Linked DNA regions of Homo sapiens: all the other regions are linked to region 1. The links come from fine-mapping of genetic effects on gene expression. A gene starts in region 1. Each other region holds a variant in brackets. All regions are shown on one strand. Distances are between the middles of the regions.

Region 1 (8,178 bases):
TATTTTATTGGTTATTGGTTGCACTAGGAATTACCAGCAACATCTTAATTTATAAAAATCCAGTTTGGATTAATACCAATTTAATTTCCACAGAATATAAAAACTGCTTCTCTATGGCTTCACTTTCCTTCCCCATTTCCTTCTGCTGTTATTGTCACAAATTACATCTTCAAAACATTGTCCATCAACTTATATTTGTAATTACTGCATTATGTAGTTGTCTTAAATCAGATGATGGGGGTTACAAACAAAAAATACGTTTATACTGTCTTTTTCATTTACCTGTGTAGTTACCTTTACTGGTGCTTTTCTTTCTTCATGAGAATTCCAGTTGCTGTTTAGTGTCTTTCACTTTCAGCCCAAACGACTCTCTTTAGTGTTTCTCCCAGTGCTAGCAACTAACGGGCTCAGCTTTAGTTTATCTGGGAATATCTTAATTTCTCCTTCATTTCTGAAAGATAGTTTTGCTGGATATAAAATTCTTGGTTGATTCTTTTCACATTTTGAATACATCATCACACTACCCTCTGCATGCATGGTTTTTGATGAGAAGTTAACTGTTTTTATTTTATTGTTGATTCCTTGTGCATGATGAGTTGCTACTTTCTTGCTGCTTTCAAGATTCTCTTTGTTTTCAAAAGTTTGATTATGATGTGTCTAGGTGTAGATCTATTTGAGTTTTTCCTACTTGGAATTCATTAAGCTTCTTGGATGTGTAGATTAATGTTTTTCATCAAATCTGAGAAATTTTAGCCAAAATTTCTTCATATATTCTCGCTTTCCTTTCTCTCTCTCTCTTCTCCTTCTAAGACTTCCATTTTGTGTTATTGGTATATCTGATGGTGTCCCACAGGTCTCTGAGGCTCTTTTCATTTTTCTTTTTCGTTTCTGTTCCACAGACCAGATAATCATCAATTGATCTATCTTCAAGTTTGCTGATTTTTTTTTTCTTTCGCATGCTCAAATCTGCTGCTGAACCCTTCTAGTGAATTTAACATTTCAGTTATTGTACTTTTTGGCTCCAGAACCTTTATTGGTTCCTTATTATAATTTCTGTGTCTTTATTAATATTCTGTTTGGCAAGGCATCATTCTCATCCTTTCTTTTACATTTTTAGAGATGGTTTCCTTTAGCTCTGTGAACATATCAAAAATAGCTGATTTACACTCTTTGTCTACAAAGTTCAGCATCTGGGTTTTCTTAGGAACAGTTTTTATTGATTGCTCTTATTTCCTTTGTATGGGTCTTACTTTCTTGTTTCTTTGCAAGTCACATAATTTTTAGTTGAAAATTGGACATTTCAAACAATGTGCCAACTCTCAAAGTCAGATACTCCTCTCTCCTCAGGGTTTGATTGTGCTTATTTTAGTATTAGGTTGGTGCAAAAATAATTGCGGTTTGCACCAACCTAATAGTTGCTGTTTAGTAACTTTTTTGAACTAATTTTTTAAAGTGTGTATCTTCATTGTGTGTGACTATTGAAGTCTCTACTTGGTCAACTAATGATTAGATGGAGATTTCCTTAAACACCTGGAACCAATATGTCTCCTAGTCTTTGCCAAGGGGCTCTGTATGCACTTTGGGGTATGTCTTCAATTTTCATTAGGCAGTTTGCAACTCTGCATAGCTTTTATTTCCTGCTAGCACAGAGCCTCAGTGTCAGCTAGTAGTGAGAGGTTAGGATCTTCTCAGGTGTTAACAGAGCATGTGCACAGCCCTACACATGCACATGGCCTTCTAAATTCCTGAAAATATACTGGAGCTTTTCAAAGCCCCTATGGACATCTCTTCCTTCAACGTTTCCTTTTACATTTCTTTGTTAGTCTATTGTTTGCCCCTACCGTTACCTATTGCCTCAGCCAGTTACAATGTTAAAATATTTGACAAATCACTCCCTCTTCAGGTGGAAAAACCTTTAGGACTGAGCTAGTTCCAAAGAGGTTGAATAAAGACAACCCTTTTCAGGATTTTTTTCCAGGGACCCACTAGATAGGTTAAATAATGACTCTTCTTTGGGAATGAGACTTTGAAGTAGCTCCAGCCCTGTCTCCTCCCTCTGGTACAGGTACTAGGAACGTGGGCTGTAAGTTTTCAAGGCTGCCATGGAACTAGAGATGGGGGTGCGATAGGACTAGGGTAAATTAAAATACTATAAATATTGCTGTTCTTACTGAGAGTTTGCTGTTTTTCCTGACTAAATGCCAGATGGGTTGCTGCAAACCTGTGACTAATTTCTAGGGCTCTAAGAAAGTTGATTCTGACAATTTTTGTCAGTTCTTTCCTTGCTTCCTTTATGGAAGGGCAAACTTGCTGGGATACTTAATCCACCATTTTCACTGACATCACTCTTCCTTTCTTTTTTAAAAAATGTTATTTTATTGCAAAAAAATATGGAAACCACAACTAAAATTAACTTTTTTTTTGAGACGGAGTCTTGCTCTGTTGCCCAGGCTGGAGTGCAACGGTGCGATCTTGACTCACTGCAACCTCCGCCTCCCTGGTTCAAACGATTTTCCTGCCTCAGCCTCCCAGGTAGCTGGGATTACAGGCACACACCATCACACCTGGCTAATTTTTGTATTTTTAGGAGAGATGGGGTTTCACCAAGTTGGCCAGGCTGGTCTTGAACTCCTGACCTCAAGTGATCCACCCACCTCGGCCTCCCAAAATGCTGGGATTACATGCGTGAGCCACTGCACTCTGCCTAACATTTTAAATTAAAAATTAACATTTTAGGCTAGGCGTGGTGGCTCACTGTAATCCCAGCACTTTAGGAATCTGAGGTGGGAGGACTGCTTGAGGCCAGGAGTTCAAGATCAGCCTGGGCAACAAATGAGACAGTGTCTCTACAAAAAAATATAAAAATTATCTGGGCATGGTGGCACGTGCCTCTAGGCCCAGCTACTTGGGAGGCTAAGGTGGAAGGTTCGCTTGAGCCCAGAAGTTCCAGGTTGTAGTGAGCTATGACTGTACCATTATACTACAGCCTGGGTGACAGACCAAGACCTTGTCTCTAAAACAATAACAAAAACAAAATTAACATTTTATACAATGAAAACATTAAAATCACAATTAAAATCCAAGAGAAAACCCTTCATTCAATTTCCTAATTAAATAAATTCATTTTCATTTGTCCATGTTACTATCTAGTCTTTATCCATACACTTATTATTTACATTTTTGTAGTAATAGTACAGGTAATTTTTTTTTTTTTTTTAAAGATGGAGTCTCACTCTGTCGCCCAGGCTGGAGTGCAGTGTCATGATCTCCGCTCACTGCAATCTCTGCCTCCCGGATTCAAGCGATTCTCCTGCCTGTCTCCCGAGTAGCTGGGATTACTGGCGCCCGTTACCACGCCCGGCTAATTTTTACGTTTTTAGCAGAGACGGGGTTTCACCACGTTGGCCAGGCTGGTCTCAAACTACTGACCTCAAGTGATCCGCCCGCCTTGACCTCCCAAAGTGCTGGGATTACAGGCGTGAGCCACTGTGCCTGGCCTATAGTTAAGATTTTTATATTCATTTTTAGTGAATGTTATACCGTATACCGTAAGTACTCTCCCCCCACAATCCTTCTGCCTCTCATCTTCCCTTTTCCATTTTCCTAATACCTCCTACTGCCTCCTCTCAACTACCCTTGTGTGTTTCTTCATCTTTCTCCGTGCTTATTCAAAAATATCCTGCCACACACACACACACAGGCTTCTCTTTTTGTTATTCAGACATTTAAAAAAATTAATTCTTGATCATTCAACTTGATTATTTAGACATTTCTGTACAGCCATCTTTTCTCGTTTACCACCACATCATGGCTGTCTGCCCCTCTACATCCGCACACGGAGCTCTAACGCATGCTTGTTAAACAGCCTTCGTAATAGTCTTTAAAGATCAACCACACTGTTCCCACGTAACCCTACCTCCCAGGTAGGGTTCCCCCAGTAACACTTTCACACATAACTTATTTACTGTTCCTTTTACTTCTGGAAGATTCCGAGAGGAAAGATTGCTGGGTCAAAGGTCACACGCGTTTTCAATTTTAATAGCTATTCCTGGATTACCTCCTCAAAGGGCTCTAACAACTCGCATTGCTCTCAGCGTGTGAGAGGGTCCTTTGCTCTGAAGGGTCTTCTAAAATATTTGTTCAATCGTTACTTAGCAGGGGCTGGGAGTAACGGATTTTATTTTATTTTATTTTATTTTTTGAGACGGAGTCTCGCTCTGTCGCCCAGGCTGGAGTGCAGTCGCGCAATCTCGGCTCACGGATTTGCTCTTTTAAAGGACATACCCTTTTATGTTTAAATGAAGGAACTCATTGATGCACCGAGGCGAAAGGAACCTTTAATTAAGTGCGTCTTCTATGCGGAGTGATCGCTTTTGTCACTTGTTCGAGGGGTGAGAGCTCCCGTCAGTTGTCCCTGTTTCTGTGAGCCGTCTACGAAGCCCGGGCTTGGCCTGGGCGACGCTGAGCGGCTTTAACCGGCGGCGTCCAGCCGGCTCCGCCAGCGCTGCCGCCGCCCTCGAGGCTCCCTCTGACTGAAGGCGCGCTGAGCATCGCGGCATTAGGGGCTCCTGGTCCCTCAAACATCCAGGGAAGCCATTTTCAGGGACTAGGTACTGACCCCCGCGAGCCGCCACAGCCACAGCCCGCGCTCCGGGCCGAACGCCCGAGCTCAAGAGCTCCCGAGCTTCCGTCGGGCGGCGGCCTCACAGCTGGGGGCCCTGAGGCGGAAGGCGCAGCCGCTCAGCTGCGGACCGGGGGCGTGGCGAGGGCGCACAGGTTCTGTTTTTCGCCGGCCCGGGGCCGCTTTCGGTTTCGTTTCCCGCCGGCGTCTCCACCCTGCGAGAGCCGCCCGCCAGCCAGCGTCCGCCGCCGTCCGCGTCGCGCCACCCGCGGTCCGACGGGAGCAGGCCCAGCGGCCATGGCCCAGGCCGGCGTCGTCGGTGAGGTCACCCAGGTGCTGTGCGCGGCCGGGGGCGCCCTGGAGTTGCCCGAGCTGCGGCGCCGCTTGCGGATGGGCTTGAGCGCCGACGCGCTGGAGCGGCTGCTGCGGCAGCGTGGGCGCTTCGTGGTGGCGGTGCGGGCGGGCGGCGCAGCCGCGGCCCCGGAGCGCGTGGTGCTGGCCGCCTCGCCGCTGCGCCTGTGTCGCGCGCACCAGGGCTCCAAGCCGGGCTGCGTGGGGCTCTGCGCGCAGCTCCACCTCTGCAGGTTCATGGTCTACGGCGCCTGCAAGTTCCTGAGAGCCGGGTAAGGCGCCGCGCCGGGAGCGACGGCGGGCGGAGGTCCTGCGCGCCCTCACGCACTTCCAGCCCGCTTGGGGGTCCTACTTGAAGTTTGAGCAGACAATTCGGTGGCTCTGCCCTGACCTCGCACCGTCATTCACTAAAGCGAGCGTTTAATGAGCACCTGCGGAGTACCTGGCACAGTGCGAGGGACTCAGGGTCGAGTGGGGTCCTCTAGACGCCTGGGGGGAGAGAGTGATTTACATAGAGCATGGTAGTGCCGGGTGGAACACCCGGGTGTGGCCGTGTGGGGTGGGGAGGGAGGGAGGCGGCGGCTTAGGGGAACTCCACGACGCCGCGGGTCGCCCCTTGCCAGCTTTGAGGCCAGACAATGAAGGTTTTCTCTGCCCAGCAGCTGGTAGAGATCTTTAAACCCAGTTCAACCCTATTAATCTGCTTACAAACTGGAAAATGCAGACTCCCTGCCATCGCCCACAAGGTCCTGGGGCACTGGTCCCTGCCCACCCAGGACCCTTCTGTGACTGGAACACCCCCCCCCCCCCGGGCATTTCTGGGAGCCTGGGCATTTCTGGGAGTCTTTGCTCTGCCTGGAATGCCCTTCTTGCTCTTGGTTGGCCCTATTTGTTAATCCTTCAGGCCTCAACCTAAAGATCACATCCCATTTGAGGATTTTTCCTCCCCTTACTCTTGGTCACAGGGAACTGTTTATTTTCCTCATGGCACCCAGCTGCCAGTAGAATAGAAACTCCCTGAGGGCAGAGGCTCCAGCTGTCTCCCCAGCACTTAGCGTCCATGTTCTGTGCATAGCATGTGGCCAGTGGGATGTGTGGAAGGGATTGCTGAGGTTTATGCTAAAGAATTTGGGCCTCACCCTGGAGGTGATGGGGCGGGTAAAATGGCAGGAGAGAGCAACCATCAGGTTTGCGTTTTAGGAAGTCTAAGGTAGTGGTGTGGGTGCCAATTTAAGGGAGGATGTTGTGGGGGAACCACTGGGAAGCTAGTCATCAAGGAGAATTCCTTCCTCCCCTGCTCCCTCCTTTCTTGCTTGCTCCCTGTTTTGTGTGTGTGTGTGTATGTTTGTCTTAATAGAGTAGATATTTCTTGCTCATGTCAGGCCCAGTAGTGAGCATGGGGTGGGGGCCTTGATCCATACAGTCATTCAGGGATGCAGGCTGACTGACCTCCGCTCTGTGCCCCTCAGCACATGGCTCTTGAGGCCAGCCTAGGTTATCAAGTTCGAGGGGGCTGATCGAAAAGAGGGATGCATGGGAGGTTTTTGTGGGCCAGGTCTAGAAGTGGTGGATTTCCTTTCACCCACATCCCATTGACCAGAAGCTGTCTCGTGACCCTGTCTAGATGCAGGGTGACTGGGAAATGCCTCTAGGAAGCAGCTGTCTGGAAGTATCTAGATTAGAGCTTTCCAAGGGCTATGTGTGTGAGAAATTTGGGATAGCTGGTGACGGTGTGATGAGAGGATATGTGAGAGGTGACGACTCTTCAGTCTCTGTTCCTGCGGTGGCCTGGGTGTTGTTCACTGAGAGAGCAAGAGAGGGTTTTAGTTTGGAAGCATGCCCAGGAGGCAGCTGTTCAGGTCAGAAGCTTGGGAGGAAGGCCAGGGCCCCAATGCGCTGGGCTGGTTTGGGAGATATTGGGCGGTGTATGTTGTAGTTGCAGCCCCAGGAGTGGATCAGATCTGAGGTAGCGTCTGAGGCCTGAAAAGAGGCTGAGGGTGGAACTCTGGGGAAATCAGCCTTCAGGGATGAGGCAGTCCAGGGGAGAGCAGGGAACAACAGCCCACGAGGAGGAAGGCACACAGCAAATGGTGGCTGGATAGAGCCACTCATGGGGGTAACTGGTAGATCTGTTTCATGTTCATATTTGGTAAAATAAAGATGGCAGCCCTGTTCTTAAGCTAGTTCCCAAAATGTGGGGTCAGGTCTGACTTGTCTCGGAAATCTGTAGTGTGATATTTACTGGCTCAGATGACCTTGAGTTTTCTTCTTTCTTCAGTTTTCTCTTTTCCTTGTGGTTTACACAGGTGAGTTTCTTGAACCTTCCATTTCTGACTCACTTTAGGGAGAGTGGGTGTGGTTGGCTGCACTTTTCTGCTTCCCCTGTGACTCTGCTTGTCTTCCTGAACCGCAGGGTCAGTTCTTTTAGAAATAGCTCATCAGTCCTGCTGCAGAGCTGGTACGGAGTCCTGGGTGCCTGACTCTTAGTCCTCTACTCAGGAGGCATTGAGCCTGGTGGTCTAGGGCACAGTCCCAAGATCCAGCCCACCTTGTTTCAACCTGGGCTCTGCTCCTTGCTAGCTGATGGCTTCGGGCAAGTGACTTTACCTCCAGGTCTCAGTTCCCTCATCTGCAAAGTGGAGTTAATGATATTACTACCCTCACAGGCTGGTTGAGGACTGAATGATTAACTCATAAAACATTTTGGCAATCCCCGATATTTGGCAGTTGCTCAATAAATTTTAGTAGTCATTATCATTGTTACCATCAGTCATCGTTACACTTATTAGATATATTTGGCTCTGGCAGCACCAAATTATTTGCCCCTCTTCTGGAATGTTCTTCCTTTCTCTTGCTGTCTCCTCCTCACCCTTTAAGTATTCCACTCAGGCTTTATGCCATCCAGCATGCTCCCCTGATTTCTTCCCCAGTTCTCTCCCAGCCCTGACTGGCTCAGGTGCCCTTCCGCTCTGCGCTGACAGATTCTGACAACAGCTGACGTTGCACTTTCCACTCCGTATCAGAGTCTCCTCTATGTCTGTCACCTCCGCTAGATGAGGGAAAGAGAGCAGGCAAGGATGGCTTCAGGGTTTTTGGTCTGTGCAGTGGGAGAGGGAAGTTGCCTTTTACTGAGCTGGGGGATTCTGTAAAAGGTGCAGGTTTGGGGTGGATCAGGGTTTGGCATTCTCCTGAGATGTGGCATAGGA
Region 2 (8,178 bases), 170 kb after region 1:
ACTGCAGATCACAGTTGTGAGTGTCTGAGATGCTCAACTTCCAGAAAGTTCAGAGAAAGTTAAGGAGAAGTCCAGTGCTGGGAGTACCTGGGCATTTGACTCACAGGCGCTCCTCCGGGGCTGGATGGTCCACAGGGTGCCATGGAGAAAGCAGGGTCCCCAGAGTCCTGGGGCTCTGTCCCTGCTTGGCTCATGGAGTGTCTTTCCCTTTTGGGTCAGCTCTCCCGTCTGTCATTAGAGCAAGAGGCTTGAGTCAGCTGAATGACAGAGCAGACTCAGCTACCAGGGAGAGTTTTCTTGAGGAGCCAGTGACACAGTCATAGGCCATGGAGTCTGGAGTTGCTTTCCCAGGGCTCCTGTCTGTCACTCTGAGCAGGGTCAGGCAACATCTGCCCATGTTACCCTCAGAGTACTCATGCCTGGGGTCCACCCTGAATTCACAGAGCCCTGCAGAGATCAATGGACCGAACCAGCGCTTTCTCAGCCCCTCCCCTTTCAGGAGTTTGTAGAGCCTGTTCAGCAACTTTCTTTTGCCCTTTTCAGGCTGGTACAATCCCTGGTCCTCTTCCTGGCCAGACTTTGGACCTCCCACTCAGAGGTTTCTGTCTCCATCATTCTGACCTGCTGCTTGTCCACATGTGGGCCCCAACTCCACTTATCCACCTAGGACTTGGTAAAGTGCAAATCTGAGTATGCTGCTTCTTTACTGAACACCCTTCAATGGTTTGCCAAGTCTTTAGCATGTGGCACATGATGTCCTTCACACCCTGCTCCCTGCCTTGTTCTTTGGCCTTGTGCCTCCTTATTCCCCCCGCCTGCCTGCCCCCGGTCCCCCTCCCCACCCCACCGCCAAGAGCCAATCCTGATCATACCGACTGAAACCCTCCATGATCTCTCACTCCCATGCCTTTGCACATGCTGTTCCCCCTGCCTTGCCTGGAACGGCTCCTCTTTTCTTGCCTGGTTGACTCCTAGTGGTTCTCTAGTAATTGTAATTTTTTTCCTGACTGTCTTTCTGCTCGTTTGTGAGTGGTGGAAACACATCTTGTCTTCTTATCTTTGATGTCTAGTGTTCATTATGGTGTTAAGCATGCAGTGGGAATTCCATGATGTCAACGCAGTGTGCTGTATTCCAGCTCCAACGTCTAATGCCAACTGGCTTCAGGCCCTGTCTCTCTCGCCTGGACCACTGAGGAGCTCCCAGTGAAGCTCTCTGTCTCCAAACCAACCCTCCCGCCAAGGCCAATCACCTTTGTAAAACAGAAGCTGACTGTGTCGTTCTATTCCCTATAAATCTCTAGTGGTTCTCCATCATTTGAAGCAAGTTTAAGCTTCTTCACTTGTAACCAAGCAGGGGCCCTTCAGGAGCTCCTGACTTCTCTCCTCACCCCATTCCTCTTATACCTGTGTTTCCAAACGTTCTCAGTTCACGGTGCCCTTAGTGACTCAGTAATGTCTTCGTAGCGCTCCCCAGGCCAAAAGAAGAACCCCACAGTCTCATTTCTAAGTAGATAAGTTCAAACAACTTTATAAGTATACATGTTCTAGCAAGTTAGTGGACATTTGAAGAAATAATACACATAAACTGAAAGCAGTTCCTACAGTGCCTGACAGATGTTGCTGTATTTGTCACGAATGTGTAAAATACCATAGCCCAGGAAGCCCCTGTGAGTTCACTGTGGCACCCTGGGGTGTCTCAGCACACAGTTTGGGAACCACAGCCTTTCATTCTTGCTGTGAAAAAGTTATTTATGGTTCCCCAGATGTGCAGTATTCCCCCTGCTCTGCCTCTTTGCAAGTATTTACCCTCTAAAGTGCCGGCTGCCCTCTTGTTAGTTTGGAAAACTTCAGACAGTCGGGTCACCTGCCCCTCTTTGTGAAGGCTTCATGGACCCTTCGCTCCTTGTAGTTTCTGTGGCACCTGGTCCTTTCCTCTACTGACCTGCATCACCCTCTGTTTATTGATAAGCTCCTGATCGCTCTGCAAGTTCTCTCAAGACAAAGCCCATCTTATCTGTCCGTGCATCCCTGAGAAGCTAGCAGAGCGCCTCACCCTTAAGAGCAAGTGGAAGGATGGTTTTAAGCTGCCTTTCCAGGACTGGGAAATCATTTTATCCTCTTGGCTTCCCTATTACTCCTCCTGGCAGAAGGAGCTTTCAACTCTGAAGCCAGACTTGAAACCTCAGAATCCTTTTTTCTCTTTATCCACATTTATCTTGCTTCCAAAATTCACCCAGCCCCTGGTCATTTTCTAAAACTTGGGGCCTGCTCTATTTCACTCCTACCACCCTGGAGAGGTGCCCCCTGCAGAGGTGCCCTGTTGGCTCCATCAGCCATGGGCCTGCCTTTGTGGCTGGCCCCAGCCAGTCTCAGGTCTAGCGGGGCAAAGAGTCCTCTGTGGGGAAGCTCAGCATACAGAACCCTCAGATCACCTCCCACTTCAACCTGGTGATTCTGCCAAAAACTTCATTTGAACTAGAGTTCCCATGATGTGATGACATCAAGACATGTCGTCCAGATCCCCCTTCTGGGAAGGACTTGCTGTCCAGCAGCCGAGACTGTGGTCAGCAGGGAGCCTCCAGCTGTTAGCTCCTTCAGGGCCAGCCTCAGCTGCTGAGATCCATGTCACTGGGGTCACCCCCTTCCTGGTAAAGCCCACATCCAGTGGCCGGGCTGAGTAGGAACACAGAGAGGTGGCATTTTGTCCTACTGGGGGATGACTGACAGCTTTCTCCTCCTTCCCTTCACTGATCCCTAGTAAACATCTTGCCCCTCAAACCCCATCTCTAGAAACTGACCTGCAAGACATGGCTTTAAGCAGCTTACAGGCCATTAGCAAGGGTAACAAAAGGATAACAAACATGTCTTCGCCTGGCAACGAAGGCTTTCCAGTGTGTGATGATGACTGGCCAATCCATCTGTGTCCCTCTCTCCAGCCACAACTTCCATTCCCCCAACCATTCCCACCTCAAGGGCTTTTCTCTGGCTGTTTTTACTGAGTGGAACATTCTTTGCCCTCACCTCCCCCTTATTCATTCTTCAAGACCTACTTCCTCCTAGAAGCCTTCTCTGCCTTCACTGGTCCATGATTCTACCCAGAATCCTGTTTCCTGTTCTTTCTGGGTTTCCTGTTCTTCTGGGTTTCTTTCTGGGTGTCCTGTCCTTCTCTTGTAGAAGTCAGCCACTATACTACCTGGCATTCTTGAGCAACTTGGCCCATGTCTGGGTTTTTCTCCTAAATTAGATGTCAGCTTTCTTTGGGAAAAGAGACATGAATGATACATTTTCTGGAGGGGATGGGTAGTCTCTCCCACTGCCATGAGCTCCATGCTGTACACGTAGCAAAGACTGAAATGTCTGTTGAGTGGACAACATCTGGAGCAGGGCCAGCAGTGAGCACTTCAAGACATGGGGAAACCATCCCCTCTGACTTTGTGCCATTGGAAGACATGGACATAGACCCCCAAAGAGTGTGGGAAAGGGCAAAAGGAAGAAGGGGGACACACCTTCCAGAAAGAATGGAGAACCGATGGTAGAAAGAGCATTGCATTTCGAGTTACAGGATGGTGAATTTGGACCAATCCCTTGGATACCTGGGTCACTGTCTCTATATCTGCTAGATTTCCCAAGTATCAGGGGAATAAACGCAGGTCTCACTTCCCTTCTTTAGGGATCTTCTTGCCTACTGCTGGGAATATGCTTGGTTGGTCCCTGGGTTGGTTTCTAAGTGGTGAGAGCAGGGGGTTAATGAGGGCTCCAGTCACACGAGCCAGCCTGAGGGAGGCCAGAGAACCAGCTCCACCAGGAGAGTCCACAAGCATGAAGAGACCCCACTGTGATTCTCCATGCCCTGCCCTTCTCCCACACCATCTTCTGCACACTTTCCTAACCACCCCAACCCAGCCACACCCATGGAAAACATGCAAAATGCTTGCTCTGCAAAGGACTGGGTCTGCAGCAATGGTGTGGTGCGTGGGTGGTGGCACGGTAGTCCCAGGAGGCCTCCTGCTGCTAAGGAAAGCCCCCAGGCTTGGCAGCCTGGAGAGGCAGGGTCAAGCTGTGCTCTACCTCTCAAGAATGGCGCTGGGGCAGCTATTCTCCACGCTTTCTGGAAGCAGGCAGGAAGATAGCCTCCCCCCTGGCCCTCAGCTTCTTCATCTATAAGATGAAGTGGTCCTTCTCATCCTGGTGAGTTATGACTCTGTCAAGCTACAATAAAGCTTTCTCCAAAACAGAGCTATGGCTAAAGGAGAGAACTGGGCAGCAAGGGGGAAAAATATCTGAAAGAAACCTGTAATGATAAACCTCCCTACTCTATTGAATATACCCACCCATCTAATTTATTCAGTTAATAAAACTTAGTCCCCAGAGGGGGACAGGCAGAGGTAAGCTACAAACCAATCTGCCAGTGTGAGCATGGGTATATATGTATATCTCATAACAATAAAAAAAGAGTAATTAAGAGATGTATTGAAGTGTGCAGAAATCCTGAAGGACACTGAAGATTACAATTCAAGTTACTGTTCTTGGTGCAAATGTAATTCAATGGGGAACAGATAAATAAAAATAAAGAAAAAACAAATTCAGAACAGATGTTAGGCAAGCAATTTTTTTCACAGTAAGAATCATAAACATGAAGAACAGCCTATAAGGCAAAGTTGTTGATGCAAACAGCATCAAGCTACTAAATAAATAGTTCGATGGCCCTGCAGGGACAAAGGAACATTAAAATAGTCATTTGGCTGTCCCTGAATATTTTTGCCCACACGTTATGCCCAGGCATGTATATTCGGGGGTATTGAAGGGAGCTGTGTGTGTGTGTGTGTGTGTGTGTGTGTGTGTGTGTGTGTGT[C/GTGTGTGTC]TATTCCATAGAATATGTGCAGGACATATATTTGTGAGAGTACATGGCAAAATCATCTCTCCCCAAATGATGTGTGGGCTTAGAACAGGAATACACGGTCTGGGAAAAAGCTAATGTCACTCCTGAAAAGACAGTGAGGCCAGGGGAGGAAGCCCAGTGCCATGGGAAGAATGTGCTGTCCAGGACTAGGTATAAAAAGCCCAGATATGCAACTCTGAAAGAAGAGAAAATTTAATGGCAAAAGAATTTCAGACACAGTGGGAGAGAAATCAGAGGCAGGGAAAAAATAATAAAGCACTGATCATAATACTTTAGAGATGGAGGGAAGCTTCAAGATGATCATTCTAGCCCAACCCCCTCATTTCATAGCTAGGAAAATGAGGCCCAAAGAGGGGAGAGGACTGGATGATGTGTGCTGTCTCCCCTTACCCAGGCGGAGGAGTCCCTGGAGACATGAGGGTGAGAGGACCCATGTGCAGGACTCAAGAAGCTCACCCCGAGCTGGTGAGGTATGGGGCTTCTGAATTCGGCAGACTCCCCAAGATGCAGGCTGGCTACAAGAACACCAAGGAGCAGTGGAATCCCAGTTGGAATCCCTGATACTTGGACAGTCTGCCCTGGGAGGGCTCTGAGAGCTCCTTTGAGTCTCATGTCAGACCTGTGAGATAGGTAGGTGCTCAAGTTTTTTTGTTTGTTTTGTTTTGTTGTTGTTGTTGTTGTTTGTTTTGTTTCTGAGACAGAGTCTCACTCTGTCGCCCAGGCTGGAGTGCAGTGGCATGATCTCAGCTCACTGCAACCTCCGCCTCCCAGGTTCAAGCTATTCTCCTGCCTCAGCCTCCTGAGTAGCTGGGATTACAGGTGCGCGGCACCATACTAGGCTAATTTTTGTATTTTTTTAGTACAGACGGGGTTTCGCCATGTTGGTCAGGCTGGTCTCGAACTCCTGACCTCATGATCCACCCGCCTCGGCCTCCCAAAGTGCTGGGATTACAGCGGTGAGCCACTGAGCCTGGCCTCAAGTATTTTTTAAAGGGAAGAAAATGATAAATGACTCATTCATTCTAGTCCCATCAGTAGGGATAGCTGAGCTAAGACCAGAACCCAGATCTGGCTCCTAATCCAGTGCTCTTTCTGGTACGGCCAGCTGACCCTAAGAATGAGGTTATGGGAGGTATCAGCTCTTCGGGAGTAGGATATGAGGCAGTAGCCCAATAAGACTCCAATTAATGACTTGGGTGAGTGGAGCCCAGCTAGTGTATCAGGAGAACATGTCCCTTATCTTCTCTTTTATCTTTTGGATCCCAAGGTGGCCTTACACAGTGTAATTCAATTTTTTACTTTGATGGGCTAACTACTGAATTGATAGAGCATAAAAGCCACTGATGGGGAAAGAGTATAAACTCCCCTTATCCAACCCTCTATTTTAATATGAGACTCTCCCCCTAATTCCTTTTATTTGTCTCCAGTAAAATAGTACCATTACCCAAATTAGCCAAATAGCAAGACCTTCCTGTTTGAAGTTTCCTTGGAGACAAATCTGACATGAAAGACATGTACTTAGAGATGATTCTTCTGTTCACGCAACAGATATTTACTGAGCATCTATTATGTGTCAGTCACCATTCTAGGCACTGGAAATAGCAGCACAAACAAGAGAGCAAGTCCCTACCCTCGTGAAGTTTGCATTCTACCAGGAAAGCAGGTCAACCAACAAATAATTATGTTACGTATTGTTATGGCAAACGTCCTAAGGCAGGACTGTTTGGAATGTTGAAGAAACAGCAAGAAGAGGCAGTGGAATGGAAAGAGCTTTGGATTAATAAAAAGAACCTGTGCAACTCTGCTCACACCTCTTACTAGCCACACGCCCTTTTCATTCTAGTCACTCATGTTTCTGTATGATTGAGGATAATGCAACTAGCCCGGCCAAACTCTCAGGGATGTTATTGGGATGGCCATGGGAGATACTATATTGGAGGGACATGATCCACACTGAGTGCTGGAAAACACTTTCAGATTATTAGCAATTAATATGTAAGTGGCCTTAGGGAACAAATATATATATATAAATAAATAAATATATATATATTATAATCATAGGGCAAGATGGATAGCCCATAGAGTTCTCCCACAGGTCCGTAGAGGTCCCATAAAAGGATGCCCACTGCAGGGTTGCTTGCTGAGGGCCACTGGGTATCTCCTCCTGGGACAGTGGACAGGTGAAGTAGGTACAGGCATCCGTGGCATGTCAGGCAGCCATGGGAAGCAGCAGACTCAATGGGAACTCTGTGCTGGACCTTGAAAGCACAGTGCTAAATGAAAAAACTAAGGAATAGAATGAGATCTACGGCAGTACTATTGGCATAAACTAAGGATAATATCCACGAAATGATAATGCACAATTTGCAAGAACATGTGAAAAAAAAACACATTAAACACAATTGGAATGGTTGACTATTGGGGATGGGAAGGGGAATGAGAGAACACTGGGAATAAAAGGAAATAAATAAACAAGCAACACAGGCAGCAGTGCGTTCCCAGCCTCTCCATAGCACTGCAGGATAAAAACATCCCCCAAAACATCAACTCAAAATGGAGGTAATTAGTAATTACTGGTTGTAATGTTGATAATTCACAATGGTGAAGTAAACTATTTCTATTAATGGTTGTCTTTTATGGGGAATTCTTTAGGAGTAAAATGCTGGTATTTATTAGATCAGTGTTTTCTCTCAAAGCCTGTTCTCCATATCCTAGTCCCAAGAAATACTCTGGGGGGAAAAATGTTCTGTGGTCAAATAAAGACTGCATCCTGGCCGGGCGCGGTGGCTCACGCCTGTAATCCCAGCACTTTGGGAGGCCGAGGCGGGTGGATCACGAGGTCAGGAGATCGAGACCATCCTGGCTAACAAGGTGAAACCCCGTCTCTCCTAAAAATACAAAAAATTAGCCGGGCGCAGTGGCGGGCGCCTGTAGTCCCAGCTACTCGGGAGGCTGAGGCAGGAGAATGGTGTGAACCCGGAAGGCGGAGCTTGCAGTGAGCGGAGATCGCGCCACAGCACTCCAGCCTGGGCGACAAAACGAGACTCTGTCTCAAAAAAAAAAAAAAAAAAAAAAAAAAGACTGCATCCTAAATTTCTCACTTGGAGATTGTCGAAGGACATTGCTGCATGAAAGGTTCGGAGTCTTTCTACACTGAAGAGACCTGTGTTCCTTTTGCTATTCCCCATGTAACAATTATTACTGTCAGTGGAAACGATGGTCTCAAGGACACACTGCGGGAAACACCCCATTCGATTGTTGGAGGGTGGGAGGTGGAGATTCCGGAT
Region 3 (8,178 bases), 26 kb after region 1:
TCAGCAGTGAATTTTAAAAAAGAATGATTTCACCAGCATCTTCGGCATTTTGTACTGAGAGGAATTTTCGTCATAACTAGTCTCCCACATTATCTTGATTTTGATATTTTTATACCTCAAAACTGATCTGAAAAAGCAGTTTCCTCTACCTCTGGGAACTTTTTCTAAAATGTGCATGCCACATTTACTATTCGCATCTCCCAGCTATATGTTCTCAAGCTGAGGGACCTGTGTCTGCTTGGCTGGTGGGATTTTCAGTCTGCTGCTGTTTTTCTTCTGTAGGATCCTGTGCTCTGAGTCAGCCAGTACCTTTCACTCTCATTGTCTGAACTTTAACGCCATGACTTACGGTGCTACCCAGGCTCGCCGCCTCTCCACGGCCTCCTCTGTCACCAAACCTCCACACTTCATCCTCACCACTGACTGGATTTGGTACTGGAGTGATGAGTTTGGTTCTTGGCAGGAATATGGAAGACAGGTAAGTGTGATGGAAAGAGGGTGAATGTTTTGTCCTGAGGATCTGTAAGAGAGGAGCCAAATAAGAGCCCCCATATTGTTGCCAGGGGCATCCTTGAGAGAGCTGAGGATCCCCAGGTGCCAGTGTGGCTCACTTGCTTTGGGAGAATTATGGCAAAACTAGATAAGTTGGAATTTATTTGTATGAGCTTTCATCTTTGAAGAGCTTCCATCTGTTGGCTCATGAGAACTGAATGACAAATTTGTAGTGAGATCAAGTTTCTTCATTGGTTTTATTAAATGGGATAGAAAGATGTTTCTCTTGTTGAACAGGTAACTTAACCCCACAGCTGGTGCCTATGTGTGCAAGTGTGTTTGTGTAGCTGTGATATAGAGGTAAAGGCTTTTCAAACTGGTTGTCTGCCATTTCTGCAACTTTACAGAAGGTAGGCAAATATAAGAAAATTGATTTATATCATGTATAGGTTTGGAATCCAAGCCAAATAACAAAAAATAGTTGCTGTCAATTCTTCGCAGGTGTTTGTGGATGGGTCAGATTAAAGGGAGTCCCCTGGTCACTTATAGAAATACAAGTTTAGGCCGGGCGTGGTGGCTCATGCCTACAATCCCAGCACTTTGGGAGGCCGAGGTGGGCAGATCAGTTGAGGTCAGGAGTTCAAGACCAGCCTGGCCAACATGGTGAAACCCCATCTCTACTAAAAATACAAAAATTGGCCAGGTGTGGTGGCGTATGCCTGTGGTCCCAGCTACTCGGGAGACTGAGGTATGAATGAGAATCACTTGAACCCGGGAGGCAGAGGTTGCAGTGAGCAGAGATCACACCACTGTACTCCAGCCTGGGCGAAAGAGCGAGATTCCATCTCAAGTACAAGTTTAGGGAAGGCACCATTGATAAAGAACTCACCCTCCAAAATGAAAATCGATAGGTATTTTGTACTCTTCTGGGTTTCAAGAGGCTATATTGAAGCTTTAGTTTCTTATTCTTAACTGCACTCAGAATGCCCTTTAACTCTGGTGATGCTCTAATGTAAGCTCCATGAGGGCAGGGACTTTTGTCTTTTCTTTTGCCCCATCGTATCCCGTGTGTGGAATGATGCATAGCCAGTCCTCAGGAAATAGACATTGGCTGATGGAAGGAGGAGGGTGTTACTGACAGTGTCTGTTGGTCAGCTGGAGATGGTCACTCTCAGCGATGGCCTTGCTGCCTTGCACTACTTCCTTTCCCCTCTCCTCCCCTGCTCCCCTCTTGCCAGCACCAGCCTCTCCTTGCTTGCTGCTCTGCCCTGCCTGCCTTTCCCACCTGTCTCCCTCCCGTCGTGGGCGACCTGGGACTCTCTCTGACCTGCCCTGTGGGACTCATCCAGATAAGCTCTCTGGGTTTGGTCAGGAGCGTGAGGGGAAGAGGCTGGCGTGACATGGAGGAGGGGGAGAGGATGACTGCCCAATCATGCTCCGGGAATCCCGGCTCTCCTGGAGATGGAGGGACAGATGGCAGGCGCAACACACTTAGCAGATGTGACCATCACGTTCATTCTGTTTGGGGATCTGTCCGGCTTCTCGGAGGAGACCGCTGGTTGCTGAATGAGATGACACAGGGCTCTGGGCAACCCATGCAAAAGTAGGGTTCCCCGGTGGTGTCTCATCACAGCTCTGGTTGTTGGGGCCGGTCTCCTCCAGTCAGCCAACACCTGGAGCGTGCCCCTTTCTTTCCTGTGCTCCTCTTCCTCTGTGGCAGTGCAGAAACTCATGGCGAGCAGTTTGAGAATGTCTGGGGATGAACCGCGTGTGGATGTTATTGATATGCCACGTGCTAGTGGGGGCGTAGAAACACATGTAGGCTTGGTGGCTTCAGGCTGGACAGCCTAGGATGATCTGGTTTGTCTTGTCCTCCCTTTCCTACACGTTTCTGGTATAACCCCACATTTAGGTTTCTTTTTTAGTTTTCTGTTAATTGCCACTTCAAAACAGTTTTCTCTTGATTCCCAGAAAAGCTAAGTTTTTTCTGTCTGAGCTCAAGAAGTACTCCAACATTTCATGTCAAAATCAGACACCTGCTGGTCCTGCCACAGGACATGTGGGAATCTGTCATTCCTTCCACATCTCACTTGGTGCCTCCAGGTGCTAAACCGAGACCTTTCTCAGCTTAACACATAATATGGCTGCCATTGTTGGTTTCTCCTTCCAAACCTCCCACTGAGGGCAAAAAAACTCTTTGCTTTTTGCTTTCTGCTCATCCACCTGCATCTTCCCTCCCTCTGTGACCATCCATCTGCAGGGATTTTGACTGGAGGCCTGGGTCGGGGCAGGACGCCTGCATCTGACTGCTGCTTCTCCTCTCTGTTTCCCTGACTCAGAGCTTCATTTCCTCAGGCCCAAAGGGGAGGGATTGTTTTCTTTTCCTTTCCTCTTGTTGTCAGAAAGGGATTTTTATGCCACATCCTCTTCCTCCCGGACTCTAGTCTAATGGCTTGGTTTTGAAGGAAGACAGACTTCAGAGAGAGAAACTTAGGCGCCGCTATGAGACCGTAAACTAGGAGGCTGCTTTACAAACCATTATACCTCTTACACCCGCCCCTTATGGTCCTCATGGGGCCAACTCATGTCATCCCTCGGGCTTGGGCCTTGGCTCAGGCATCTTTTTCTTCCAAGAAACCTTTGCTGGGTCTCACCCTTCCTTGGTCATTCTTAGTTACCCATCTCAGCGTCTAGAGCACCCGTGAGACCTGTGTGGGACCTTGTGCTTGAGGCTTTGAAATATCTGGGTACTTTTTTTTCCCCTTCTCCATTGCTGGACTCAGTTGCGCAGAGGCATGGGTGACTCTTGTCTTGTCTCACTTTTGTTCTGTTAGTAACACCTAAAGCTTGTGACCCAGGAGAACTAGGATGGTAGCAGTAGGGGGAGCAGGAAAATTGACAGGGACAGAGGGAGTTAGTTGGTTATAGGTTGAATAACTTTAATTTTAGTTGTCAGTGTAATCTCAAATTTAATAAGAACGGTGATGATAATAGTAACATTTATTGAGTATGTTTTGTTCTGGGCACTGTACTAAGTGCTCCACATGCCTTATTTAAATGATTTCTCCAGCCCTGTGAGGACAATATAGTCCTGTTGTATAAAGGGATGAATATGGCCTAAGTACTATTATTCATATTATAAGCTTGAGATAACGGAGGCTCAGGGAGGTTAAGATAACTTGCCAAAGTTATAGAGCCAGCAGGTTTGGGAGCCAGAATTCAAACTCACTCCAGCTGAAGCTACGAGATTTCCTGTAGGTAATTGTGGAAGGATAGGGATTGAAATGGATAATTTAAAAAATAGATGAATGCTCCTAGGGACCAGAAAAAGAAAACCGCAAGGAAGAGGACCGAGCTCTGATTAAAGGATGGTTGCAACGTGAATAGACGGGTAAGACCAGCCTGGCTTGGGCTGCCCAGTCAAGCAGCACTCCAGAAGTCGCTGTTGCTGTTCTGCCGGCATTTGAATGGCTGCCGTGTCCTCTGTCCTAGGTGACTTGAGTGCCCTCCTCTCCGTTGCTCCCATCCCTGTCTTCCTGCTCAGCAGGACCCATATTTACTGCATTGTGTTTGCTAGGGCAGCTTCAGGAGACAGTCATGTTGCCTCCATTCTGTGCCTCTCTCTCCTGCCATACCATGCTCCCTGGCCTCCATCTTCCCCACCACAGGACTGTCCACCAGGAGCACCTCTGAAATGTGGCGTGGGTGCCACCAGCGTTTTTCCTCATCACGCAGTTTCTTGCCTTCATAAAGTGTCTGGCTTTCCATCGCAGGGCACGGTGCACCCTGTGACCACTGTCAGCAGTAGCGACGTGGAGAAGGCCTACCTGGCCTACTGTACACCGGGGTCTGACGGCCAGGCAGCCACCTTGAAGTTCCAGGCCGGAAAGCACAACTACGAGTTAGATTTCAAAGGTATCCTGTGCCCTGCCCTCGCCCAGCAGAGCCTGCCTGTGTTGGCTCTGTCCCTACACCTTAACCCTGGAGGAGCCGTGTGCACATACTGAG[G/A]GCCTGGGTGGGTACAGGAAAGAAAAGCAAGGTACCAGGTCCAAGGTAGACCTGGAGACAGATGACACTGGCCCTGTGCAGTGGAGGAAGAACTGCATCAAGGATGTGAGGAGAATGGACCCCAGGAGGGGCAGGAGCCCCAAGTGTGGAGGACAAGCAGGGTCAGCATGCATGTAGCATGGTTGTCCTGCTGTATCCGAGGACTAACCTGAGTCCCTGACAGGTGTCCGAGCAGCTCCGTCGTGCAGTGTCTGCCTTTCACTCCCTGCTGCAGCAGTGCTGCTGTCATCTTTTTTTTGAGACGGAGTCTCGCTCTGTCACCCAGGCTGGAGTGCAATGGCGTGATCTTGGCTCACTGCAACCTCCGCCTCCCGGGTTCAAGTGATTCTCGTGCTTCAGCCTCCCAAGTAGCTGGAATTACAGTCATGAGCCGTCACACCTGGCTAATTTTTTGTATTTTTCATAGAGACGGGGTTTCATCATGTTGGCCAGACTGGTCTTGAATTCCTGTCCTCAAGCGTTCTACCCACCTTGGCCTCCCAGTTTGCTGGGATTTCAGGCATGAGCCACCGCGCCTGGCCTGCTGCCATCTTTTCTGTAGGCGACTTTGGAGTTGATGGGTTTAACGGATGGTAGGACACAGAGTAATTGAAAGTCCCTGAGAAGCAGATTTTCGTGCACTCATGGTGTCCTGAGGCTGGGGCTGAAATGTTTCATCCTGGTTGCCTTACAGAGAGAAATAGGCCACCCTTTGGCCAGTTCCTCCAAGTGGCTGATGTGTGAGAATTTTTTTTTTTTTAAGTTTTAATTTTGTGTAGTTTCTCTTAAGCCATTTCCTCATGAGTGTATCGGTCCAGCTTTATTCAGTTCCGTTTTGCCTGTATTTCACATTTTAAACTCTGAGTCCTTCTGAATGTTCAGCATTTTATAAGGGAGTAAGTGGGCCTTCCTTTAAACACAGTTTATGGTTTTCTTTATTTTTGCAGACGTTTATTCTATGTGGAGTATAGTGAAGTGTCTGGTGAATTATCCTAAAACCACTTTGGCTGTCTGTTTCTGGCCTTGGTTTTGCTTGTGGTTTCGTGGCACTTGTGGTTTTGCTTAGGGTAGATCACTACCCCCTTGACATGCCCTTTACGGTGAAGTTTTTCTCCTCTAGAGTGCGAACTGCCTCTGCTGGAGAGCGCCAGCCACGTGTGGTCTGGTTTGCTTTCCACGGCCTGACACACACCAGTGCATGAGAGGGGACCAGTGAGAGCATAGACGTTAATCAAATCAGGACTGCCCTGAAGGTCAGGACTGTGTGGCAAGCATACATCTGACTGCTGCTGACAGCAATCTGGAATATTTCTTTTAAATATCTGGAAAATATCAAAACAGATAGAAATGTCAGATACTACCTTGATCATTCCCAACCTAGGCCACACCCTGGGGACATAACAGAACCTCATAATAGGGATGGGGAAGAGCACACACGTGCAGTTTATGATTCCTGCAGACTGACCGAAGCCCATTTGAGTGGGCACAATTCTTCTCCTTCTCCTCCTTCTCCTCCTTCTCCTCCTTCTCCTCCTTCTCCTCCTTCTCCTCCTTCTCCTCCTTCTCCTCCTTCTCCTCCTTCTCCTCCTCCTCCTCCTCCTCCTCCTCCTCGTCCTCCTCCTCCTCCTCGTCCTCCTCCTCCTCCTCCTCCTCCTTGTCCTCCTCCTTGTCCTCCTCCTCGTCCTCCTCCTCTTCCTCTTCCTCCTCCTCTTCCTCTTCCCCCTCCTCCTCCTCTTCCTCCTCCTTCTTTTGGTAGATACCAGTATCCATAAAAGAAGCTTGAGATGAATTGGCTTCTTCCCCCACAACTTCACTTCTAAGTATAAAGCAAGTCTCAAAGCAAACTGCCACACATATTTATTAGCTGTTTATTAGGAAGCAAGTACATTTAAAACACACAAAAGAGCCCAAATGAGTTGTTCTGAAGGTTTAGGGATGATTCAGTTCTGCCCTTTTAGGGACTCTTGTCATAAATGATTCACTCAAGGCAAATGCCAGGATTCCAGAGGCAGAATTCTAGCATCCTGTTAGGTGGTGTCTGACGGGGCAGAATTCCCCAAAGACAGGCTGTAGCCTAGGGTATCCTCTGGAAGGGTAAATTAGGGAAAAGACCTCACTTTACTGTGTCCATAGAAGGGTAGGGAATGTGTCTGACACACATTTAGCCAGTCCACGTATCTTAGCTCACTTTTAATTTCACCAGTGAAAGCCATTTAAGATTCATCACAGATGGCCAGTAGGCCAGTAACACCCATTTAAATATGCCAGTGAGAATGGTCTTGATGGGCGGCTGAGTAGTGGGTAACAGAAGGGGTCATGGTTGCTGCATCTGGATCATGGGCTCTGAATGAGAATGTGGATGGACCTCCAGGAATAGTGACCATCTCAGCTGCAACCTAAGAGACACACACTTGGATAACCATCCAGTTTATGCTCAACTGCAATAAGGCTAATTCTGGACACCTATAATTTTTAATATTAAAATGTTTTGTAAATGAAAACAAAATTAGTTGGGCATGGTGTCACAAACCTGTAGTCCCAGCTACTTGGGAGGCTGAGGTGGGAGGATTACTTGAGCTGGTGAGTTCAAGGTCCACTTGAGCAACAAAGCAAAAGACCCCATCTCTTAAAAAAAATGTAAGACTTGAGAGGGTTTTCCTGGCAGGCAAGGACAGAACAAACACTGCTAGGTATTTGTCATTTTTCAACTTGAGGGGCCAGTTCCCCCAACCCCAAATCCTCAGGATGAGTATGGGATTCTTGAGGGTGGGGAAGCAAGAAATTTGTTTATTAAAGATATTATTGGTTTAGAAAGGTTGATGAATACTGCCATAGTTTAACTAAAACAAAGTCATAAAACTTACATTAACTCTGAATCCCACTAACTCAAGACATGGTAGTTTGATCTCAGGCTGGGCTGAGGCTTTTTTATATCCAAGCTGGGAAAAATTGCCAAGCAAAATAATGGTTTAAACAAGATTGGAAGGAACAATTTAAAAGCACTCATGTGTAATTGATATGTCAATTACTAATCATTCCTCTATTCATTAAACCCAGTCTCCTAAGGATACCTATTTTCTTTATGAATATTTGAAATGTGTAAAATGGCCCTATTTTTAACAGACTGATTCTGGGTTTTACACATTTGGATAAGCTTTCAAATCTATCTAATTTGTGTTTATAAAACATTGCCATCCTGTGTGTATGTATATGTATATGTATATTTTTTCACTGGTTATGTTTTTTTTCAGCCTTCGTTCAGAAAAACCTGGTCTATGGCACAACTAAAAAGGTTTGCCGCAGACCCAAATACGTGTCTCCCCAGGATGTGACGACCATGCAAACCTGGTAGGTTGCAGTGGGGGGCTTGGTACTTAGGATGTAATCAGCTGGGGTGTGCTCTGCAGTGGTGACAGAAAACCTGCCTCAGACAGCACCCGGGCACCGTTGGCTTGTACAACGAAGTGCTCCCACACTCTGTTATCGTTTGTCTTCTACTAGTTGGACCAGAGTGGGAATTACCCTGTGGGTAGAAGCTTCGTGATGCATAATTAGAAGGCTGCCTGTTGTGATCTGCGATGATTCTCTGGAGAAGACAGACTCTGAAGGCGAGTCTAGACTTGAAGCCAACCCATCCGT

Direction of the effects. Alleles are on the strand shown, and positions count from the first base shown. SD is a standard deviation of normalised expression in the study named. Not every link is listed here.
For the expression in subcutaneous fat of the gene that starts at base 4,815 in region 1, allele GTGTGTGTC in region 2 goes with a higher level than allele C (large effect, 0.80 SD a copy in FUSION).

What was found.
Region 2: its variant is fine-mapped to the expression of PARP12 in subcutaneous fat (FUSION, PIP 0.95).
Region 3: its variant is fine-mapped to the expression of PARP12 in whole blood (TOPMed, PIP 0.90).

What each region holds. Positions count from the first base shown.
Region 1 is chr7:140,059,588-140,067,765 of GRCh38, reverse strand. It overlaps PARP12 (poly(ADP-ribose) polymerase family member 12), which reads left to right and starts at 4,815. Exons shown (of 12, transcript NM_022750.4): 1 at 4,815-5,244. The coding sequence starts at 4,919. RefSeq lists an enhancer at 4,668-4,877 and a silencer at 4,888-5,207.
Region 2 is chr7:139,890,000-139,898,177 of GRCh38, reverse strand. The region is part of intron 3 of TBXAS1 (thromboxane A synthase 1); the gene reads right to left. Among named protein-coding and RNA genes, the nearest start is that of TBXAS1, 65 kb to the right of the region's middle. The variant C/GTGTGTGTC (reference allele first, on the strand shown) is at 4,853.
Region 3 is chr7:140,033,944-140,042,121 of GRCh38, reverse strand. It overlaps PARP12 (poly(ADP-ribose) polymerase family member 12), which reads left to right. Exons shown (of 12, transcript NM_022750.4): 6 at 283-478; 7 at 4,266-4,407; 8 at 7,791-7,887. Among named protein-coding and RNA genes, the nearest start is that of PARP12, 25 kb to the left of the region's middle. RefSeq lists a silencer at 5,561-5,610. The variant G/A (reference allele first, on the strand shown) is at 4,501.